Regions from separate parts of the Homo sapiens genome. Here region 2 is linked to region 1. Evidence: fine-mapped expression QTL. A gene starts in region 1. The other region holds a variant in brackets. All regions are shown on one strand. Distances are from middle to middle.

Region 1 (4,383 bases):
CATCACCAAAGAATCAGCCAGAGGATAAGATACCTGTGGAGCAAACCTAGACCCAATACAAAGTCTGGAGCCAAGCTCAGCCCGGCCCAGCCCAGCACCATCTGACCTGCCCATATAGGAACAAGAATAAATCATTGTTTAAACTCCTAAGCTTTGGGTGGTTTGTTACATGGCATATTGCAGCAGAAGTTAACCAATGCACTCATCAAATATAAGTGTGATATTCTAATGAGGTTGCTATTTGAAGTATCCACTTGAGGCCAGGCACAGCGGTTCACACTTGTAATCCCAGCTCTTTGGGAGGCCAAGGAGGGCAGATCACTTGAGGTCAGGAGTTTGAGACCAGCCTGGCCAACATGGTGAAACCCCGTCTCTACTAAAAATACAAAAATTAGCCGGACATGGTGGCACGTGCCTGTAATACCAGCTACTTGGGAGGCTGAGGCACAAGAATCGCTTGAACCCGGGAGGCGGAGGTTGCAGTGAGCTGAGATTGCACCACTGCACTCCAGCCGGGGCAACAGAGTGAGATCCGTCTCAAAAAAGAAAAAAAAAAAAAAAAAAAAGCTGCAGTGACCTGTGATCCCACCGCTGCACAGAGACCCTGCTAAAAAAAAAAAAAGAAAGAAAAAGTATCCACTCTATGCCTCTTCTTTATCTCACCTCAGTTTATGCCAAGGCTATTTTATAGATGAAGAAACTAAGGAAAAGATTTGCCCAAGGTCACACAAGCCTATGCTCTCTTCCCACTGTTCCAAACTGAAGGAACGTGAGAAAAGCAGGTAAAATCAGGAGGGGAGAAGCAGGGAGTGGTGCTCAGGCTTGTAATCCCAGCACTTTGGGAGGTTAAGGCAGGCAGATGGCTTGAGCCCAGAAGTTCGAGACCAGCCTGGGCAACATGGTGAAATCTCGTCTCTACAAAAAGAACACAAAAGATTTGCCGCTAGTGGTGGTGCACGCCCGCAGTCCCAACTGCTCAGGAGGCTGAGGTGGAAGAATCACTTGAACCGGGGAAGTCCAGGCTGCCATAAGCCGTGATCACACCACTGCACTCCAGCCTGGGTGACAGAGTGAGACCCTGTCTCAAAAAAAGTAAATAAATAAAATCAGGACCGAATTTAGGATGTCACCACCAAATCCCACTTTAAAGAGCTCGGTAATACTTCACACTTAAAAAAGGAAAGGTCAGGACAAATAAAAGAATGACCAGCCTTAACTCCGGGGCTGGTAATTTATGGAACTTATTACCTAACGGTGTTGCACAGGCTGAAAATACAACTTTTCTAAGAAAGATGTGAATAATTGCAGTATACCACTCCTACAATGGGTTAATAAGAAAAACAAGAACGTTTGTAGGCATGTGGGTCTCTATTATCCTCAAGGTTAACTTCAAGGAGGAAAACCGCACCCGCTGATACAGTGTTTCTAGGAGCTCGACGAGAAAAGGCAAACTGCGAGCCTTCTCGGGACGCCCTGTTCCCACCACAGCCCTTCACACAATGCGTCTAACAGCATTTAAGGAACACCCGCCACGCCAACGATCCTGCTGGAACCGCCCAGTTCAGGGAACAGGGGACGACTGACCAGAAGGCAACCGCCCCCAACCTGAGCAAAGAGCGCTGGAAACCTATTCCCCCCTCCCCCTACACCCCCCCGCCCCCCGCTCCACTACGGGACCCTCGGCTCGAATTCTTTTAGTGCAGGACCACCTTAGGACTCAGCCTCCCTAAGGAGAGGAAAAGTGGGGGAGGGAAGGGGACTCTGGAGGAGCAAAAGCAAGAGGCCTGGGGGCGACTGGGGTGGGGCGTCTCCTAGAGCGAGGATTGCTGCAGAGTGCGCGTGCACGCCCGCACATCCACACCCACGGCTACACATCATATCTGCACACGCACAAAACCACACACCCTCCCACGCCGGTCCCATATCCTTTCTGCGGGGTGAGCAGCAGATTCCCGGAAAGGGGGAAATGTAGCCGCAAAAGCAAAGCCGGGGGCCTGGCGCCCACTCTGGCGGCGACTACAGCCCCCACGCTGGGCACACTGCGAGCTGGGGGTGCCCGGCGCGGGAGAAGCCGCGCCCAGCCGGGCTGGTAGCCCAGCGGGGGGCGCGGCAGGGCGAGGAGCAGCCCGCGCTGCTCCCGCCCCTCGGGTGCCAGCACCGCCCCTGCTGCGGCGGGTGAGGGGCGGGGCGGGGCGCGGCGTATATAAGGCTAGGGGCGGGCGCCGCTCTTTTGTTTCTTGCTGCAGCAACGCGAGTGGGAGCACCAGGATCTCGGGCTCGGAACGAGACTGCACGGTGAGTGCGGCGCCGGGGCGGGGGGCCCACCCAGGGTGTGGTCGGATCCGGTGCACCGGGCGGGCGCGCCGCAACCGCGACAGGCGCCCTTCTCGGACCGGACGCAGGGGCCGGCGACCACGCCCTGGGACCGAGAAGAGGGGTGCGGGACGCGCCCAGATCCTCGGCCTTGGGGCTGCTCGGCACGCCTTGGCGCGAGTGCCACGTCGAGAGGCGTCGGCGGGGAGCGCGGAAGGGGACGCTGGCCCCCAGGCCCAGGTCAAGCGCCTTGGTTTGCCCACTAGGATTGTTTTAAGAAAATGGCAGACAAACCAGACATGGGGGAAATCGCCAGCTTCGATAAGGCCAAGCTGAAGAAAACGGAGACGCAGGAGAAGAACACCCTGCCGACCAAAGAGAGTGAGTGTGCCTCGGTCTCCCGCGCCCCAGCCCAGCCCCTCACCCTGCTCTTCCTTGCAAACCCACTCCTCCACCCCCCACCCCGCCGTTGTCCCCGGTGTGGGCGGCCCCGGCCACTCTTTCAGTTTCACAAAGCGCCTTGTTTCTCCCCAGCCCCAAGCTTCCTTCTAAATCCCCACACCTCGTGGGTGCCTCGCCCACACCGGGAAGCACCTCGGTTGCGGGTGGGGGTTGCAGCTCCCCTCCAGCGCCCGCTTCCCGCTCTCCACAGCCATTGAGCAGGAGAAGCGGAGTGAAATTTCCTAAGATCCTGGAGGATTTCCTACCCCCGTCCTCTTCGAGACCCCAGTCGTGATGTGGAGGAAGAGCCACCTGCAAGATGGACACGAGCCACAAGCTGCACTGTGAACCTGGGCACTCCGCGCCGATGCCACCGGCCTGTGGGTCTCTGAAGGGACCCCCCCCCAATCGGACTGCCAAATTCTCCGGTTTGCCCCGGGATATTATAGAAAATTATTTGTATGAATAATGAAAATAAAACACACCTCGTGGCATGGCTGGCGTGGTCTGAGTCTTTTAGTTGAGTATGCGTGGGCAGTGCCACTGCAGCAAAGCCCCTCGATGGAGTAGAGTTCCTGCCGCAAAGGGGAGGAGGTGGGTCGCAGAATGGGCTGACTCGGAGGGAGTTTTTAATTTTGGCTTTACCTGCTTCTCCGTAAGATTTCATGACTTGTTAGCCACTTAACTCTTGCTCGTAAGCAATCTGTGTAAAATTTAACCCCACTTTGTCCCCAGGTTGCGTTGGAAAATGCTTTTTCAAAAGAGCAAGGTTTGCTTTTGATAAGCTTCGAAAGCCCCACTGTTTCCCTCTGGCCTCCTCCTAGCTGACTCAGAAGGGAACACTGATTTTAAAGAAAGAAAAGACAATCTGGAATGTTGGAAATTGGGTGAGGTCACAAAGTCTCCGGAAGCCTTTCTTCGGGAGCTTAAAACAAAGGCGGGATCTAGGGATACAGCAACGGGAACGTCAGAACTAGAAGAACCAACACTAGAACTGGGGGAGGGGAGGGGGGAAGAGCTTTTGTCTTTTAACCCTAGTTCAGAACCTCCCACAAAAACATTAGCCATTAGAGGAAGTGCTAGACTGATCTGCTACCACCCAGTGCTCAGCAGGAAGGGTGGGGATGTGGTGGGAGGGAGGAAGGGTGGGCTGGCGCTGGCGCTGGCGGCCAAGCTCCAAGGGATGACACCTCAAACCCACAGGGAAGGAATAGGACCAGCCCAAGGGGGCCTGACAGTTGGGAACCTGGGGCTGCAGGCCATTCAGAAGCAGAAGAAACAGGCTTATAAAGACAGGGGTGGAGTTTTCTTTAAGGAAGGTGGATAGGACACTGCTTAGAGATTCGTCCCACATTTTTGCCCGGCCCCAAGAGGCTGGGCACTGGGTGAAGACAGTTAATTCGAATAAGATACGGTCCCTGTCCACGAGGAATTTAAAATCTGGTGAGTGAGATAGCCACAGCAGACCAGAGTCAGGACACCTAGGCTTGGCAGGGAGACTCATGCCCAAAGGCATTCTCTCTGAACTCCTATCTGCACCTCCCTCCTGGTACCTGGACACATACATCACCTCCCCCATTAGAGTAAATAGAGAGACTTTTTTTTTTTTTTTTTTTTTGAGACGGAGTT
Region 2 (4,383 bases), 57 kb after region 1:
CCTTGGGCTCTCAAAGTGCTAGGATTACAGGCATGAGCCACCGCACCCGGCCCATTGGCAACCTTCCTATAGCACCAGCAGAGGAAGAGGCATCCTGCTCCTGGTGGAAGCTAAATTTATCTGGGCTCCTTCTCCCCTCCATCTCCCACCCTCACCACCCCCACCTCCCTGCTCCACACACACATACACCCTTCAGTTCTCTGCTGCCTCTCCTGGATCCTTCCCCTAAACCTCTAAACACACTAGACTCTCCTATTCCTAAAACCAAAAACACTTCCCTTCACTCTGGGGCCTCCACTTACCATCTTTTAATTTCTCATTTATTTCTCTGACAAGCTTTTTTTTTTTTTTTTTTTTTTTTTTTTTTTGAGACGGAGTCTCACTCTGTTGAGTGGTGGCACAGTCTTGGCTCACTGCAACCTCCAGCTCCTGGGCTCAAGTGACCCTCCTGCCTCAGCCTCCCAAGTAGCTGGGATTACAGGAGTGTGCCATGACGCCCAGCTAATTTTTGTTATTTTTAGTAGAGACAGGGTTTCACATGTTGGCCAGGCTGGTCTTCAACTCCTGACCTCAAGTGATCCACCTGCCTCAGCCTCCCAAAGTGCTGGGATTACAGGTGTGAGCCACCATGCCCGGCCTCTGCCAAGCTTCTTTAAATACAAAAGAAAGAAAAAAGAAACAAAAGGGCTATGAAACCAGTGTATATGTTCATTACAGAAAATTTCAAAACTAAAAGGAAAAAAAGTCCTTCATACCTTATCATAAGCTCTCAAAACATCAATCAGAACTGCTTCAATTAGTTTTGTCACCAGAATGTAAACACCTCCAGGATGGGGACATAGTTTTCTTTTTCATGATTGTGTCCTCAGTGGACCCAGAAGACTCAATAAATATGTATTTATTGGGGACTACTAGATGGAAGAGAGAGGGAGTGAGTCAAGGGCTGAAAACCTACCTTCTGGGTACAATGCTTAGTGCCTGAGTGATATAATCATTCACACCCCAAACCTCAGCATCATGCTATATACCATATAACAAACCTGGGTAACATAAAAAAAAATACATCATCCATATTATACCCCCATAACCATATTGACTCTGATAGCCATCCAATCTTTACATGTTTTATTAAAAATAAAAAATGAGGACAGGTGCCATGGCTCACGCCTGTAATCCCAGCACTTCGGGAGGCTGAGGTGGGAGGATCATTTGATGCCAGGAATTTGAGACCAGCATGAGCAACATAGCAAGACCTCAACTCTAAAAAAAAAAAAAAAACTTAAAATTAGCTGGGCCTGGTGGTACATGCCTGTAGGCTCAGCTACTCAGGAGAGTGAGGGTGGGAGGATCGCTTGAACCTGGGAGGTCGAGGCTGCAGTGAGCCATGATCATGCCACTGTACTCCAGCCTGGATGACAGAGCAAGACCCAGTCTCAAAAAAACAAAAACAATAATGACATCAGGCTGTACATACATAATTTAGAAAAGAATGTTTTGTAACCTGCTTTTTTCACTAAAAACACATCATATTTCTAGTTCATTACCCATTTTTAGTTGCTGCTTTTGGTTTGGATAGACAATAATTTATAGGTTTTCAATTTTAAATATTAAAAAGAACACTGTGATAAACATTCTTGTGTCTAAAATCTTTGCATCTATCAGTAATTACTTAAATAGACTGAGTTGAGCTGGGATTACTATGGCAAAGAATGGGCAAAAATCTATTGCTCTTGAAACCTACCATAAAATCCCATTTGGAATGCTTGTAACAAGTCATATTCCTTTCTTGACATCCTCATTATCAAGTATTATTAAAAGTATTTTTCTGCCAATTTAAGAGGTGAAATGGTGTCTCCTTTTAATTTGGATTTGATTCCTAGTGGTTGAGTTTGTTTCACATTCTTATTTCAGCTCATCTTCTAGAAGTCATCTATAGCTACTGTCAGTTTCTAGGCTTCCAAGGACACCCTTCAGCCTACTGCAATGCAGCTTCTTACCCTACTCCTCCATGGACAGATGACATCCATTTCTGAAATCCAGGGGCCACACTTCAATCTATCTCATGAGGTATCTCTGCTTGGTGGACACCGATGTTCTCCCTTCCTGAAGACTCTGCTTCTCTGACTTCTGTGAGCATAGCCTCTTCTGGTCACTCGTTCTCTGGCATAGACTTCTTCTCTG[T/C]GGGCTGGCAGCGAACAGTGGGGCCTTCAGCATCATTATTGCTCAGGTCAGTACAAAGGACCACATAAGGGAGTATGATAGTGAGGAGCCAAGATCACTCCACATCTCGAGAAGAGATGATAGCAGCCTGGAATGGTTTGGTGGCCATGGGAATAAAGAGAAAGGGACTGATTTGACAGATGTTTAATGGGTAAACATCACAGGATTTGGCAATTGGCTATGGAAGATAAATGGGAGGAAGGAGTCTAGGATGACTGTTGTGTTTCATCTTGTTGGGGGGTGACTTGACTAGGCTGATGACTTTGCTCAATCCAATAGGGGATACAAAAACAGCAAAGACATGAAAGAGAAGATGATGATAGTGGTATCCCAGAAAATGAGAGGGTAACCAACAGCACCAAAAGTCAGGCAATCAGATAAACCAGTTTCTAAGCTGAGGAAGGGGAGTGACAATTCTTTCAAGAAGATTGTCCACAGAGAGAAACAATAGGGTAATAACCAGGAGTGCAGGGTTGAAGGGGCGTTTTTTGGCTGAGGGCAACGGACCAGTAGAGGCTGAGCAGCTGAAAGTACAGGTGCCAAGGGGGTGGCTGAAGGAGTAAGATCCCATTGATGGGATGAAGTGGGATCATAACAGATGACAGGTTGAACAGAAAGGCTATCTCCATGCATGAGGCAGCAGGATGCAGATGTACACACTCCCTTGGAGGCTCACAGTGGGAAGTGAAAGTTCCTGCATTTTGAACTTTCCTCCCTCTGTGAATTAGGAGGTGAGGTTATCTATTAGGCACGTGGGTGAGTAAGCAGTTGGAACCAAGTGGTGAATGTTTATAGAAGAGGGTTCTGACCAAAGACAAAGATTGCTCAATGGCACTGAGGTCCAACCGCAGTTGAATGCCCTAGATTCATAACAGCCACAATCTGTACACTTCTATCATTTTTAGTTGTTATATTCTACACCCCAAGCAGATACACACAGGGATAAACTGAGTCAGGCAATTCAGGCTTGGAAGCTTGCAAAGCTGGTAGAGTTTGAGGATGAGGGGTTTAAGGAGCTGAGGGCATGAATGAGAAGTCTGAGTTGACCACAGGGCACCAGTTGCATAAGGTAGAGAATGGGGTTAAAAAGGGAAAAACAAAAGAAAAAACCGGCTGGGCGTGGTGGCTTACACCTGTAATCCCAGCATTTTGAGAGGCCGAGGCGGATGGATCACTTGAGGTGGGGAGTTCAAGACCAGCCTGGCCAACATGGTGAAACCCTGCCTCTACTAAAAACATAAAAATTAGCCGGGCGTGGTGGCAGGCGCCTGTATTCCCAGCTACTCGGGAGGCTGAAGCAGGAGAATCACTTGAACCCAGGAGGCGGAGGTTGCAGTGAGCTGAGATCAGGCCACTGCACTCCAGCCTGGGCAACAGAGTAAGACTCTGTCTCAGAAAAACAAACAAAAACCATAACAGCAAGTGCAAACATCAAGGATTAGGCCAGGCGTGGTGGCTCATACCTATTAATTCCAGCACTTTGGGAGGCTGAGGTGGAAGAATCACTTAAAGCCAGGAGTTCAAGACTGGCCTAGGTAACAAAGCGAGACCCTTGTCTCTACAAAAAATAAGAAAATTAGCTGGGTGCAGTGGTGCACGCCTGTAGTCCCAGCTACTCAGTGTCCACTGATAAATAAAGATGATTGCTCGAGCCCAGGAGTTCAAGGTTGCAGTGAACCATGATCGCACCACTGCACTCCAGCCTGGGTGACACAGCAAGACGCTGGACATTAAAAGAAAAAAAAAAAAGGTTTAGTGGTAGAGAGTAAGAAAACTGAAAAATAGGAAGTTACAATAAGACAGATTATTAGAGTTTCGAGCATGGTCACAAGAGAGGAATGGGTGGTTGAAGTGGAAGTGCACACAGATTTGAAAAAAATCAAGGCCTTGTAAGGCCAATTGTAAGGCCATACTTGAAAACATTCAGGGTGGCAGAATTTGGGATGAAGACTGCAAAGCAGAATTGAGGCCTCAGTGACTCCTGCATAGTGACTGTGAGATTGATAGATAACAGAGAACTGGTGAAGTAACCAGATGGCATTTGGGCCTTCTGACCCTTTCCAGACTTCATGGAAGTGGCAGAAAACTGTAGCCAACATCAGGGCCTCAAATTGTGGTTCCACCAGTGACTAGCTACATGGCCTTGGGCAAGTCAATTTAACC

Evidence for each region.
Region 2: its variant is fine-mapped to the expression of TMSB10 in adrenal gland (GTEx, PIP 0.97).

Annotation. Positions count from the first base shown.
Region 1 is chr2:84,903,424-84,907,806 of GRCh38, forward strand. It overlaps TMSB10 (thymosin beta 10), which reads left to right and starts at 2,233. Exons shown (of 3, transcript NM_021103.4): 1 at 2,233-2,295; 2 at 2,580-2,694; 3 at 2,966-3,248. The coding sequence starts at 2,595. The coding sequence ends at 3,000. It overlaps LOC105374836 (a long non-coding RNA gene), which reads right to left and starts at 3,598. Exons shown (of 2, transcript XR_940308.3): 1 at 3,240-3,598. RefSeq lists a silencer at 1,990-2,529 and enhancers at 2,496-3,695, 3,500-3,559.
Region 2 is chr2:84,960,919-84,965,301 of GRCh38, forward strand. No RefSeq gene overlaps it. Among named protein-coding and RNA genes, the nearest start is that of KCMF1, 8.1 kb to the right of the region's middle. The variant T/C (reference allele first, on the strand shown) is at 2,182.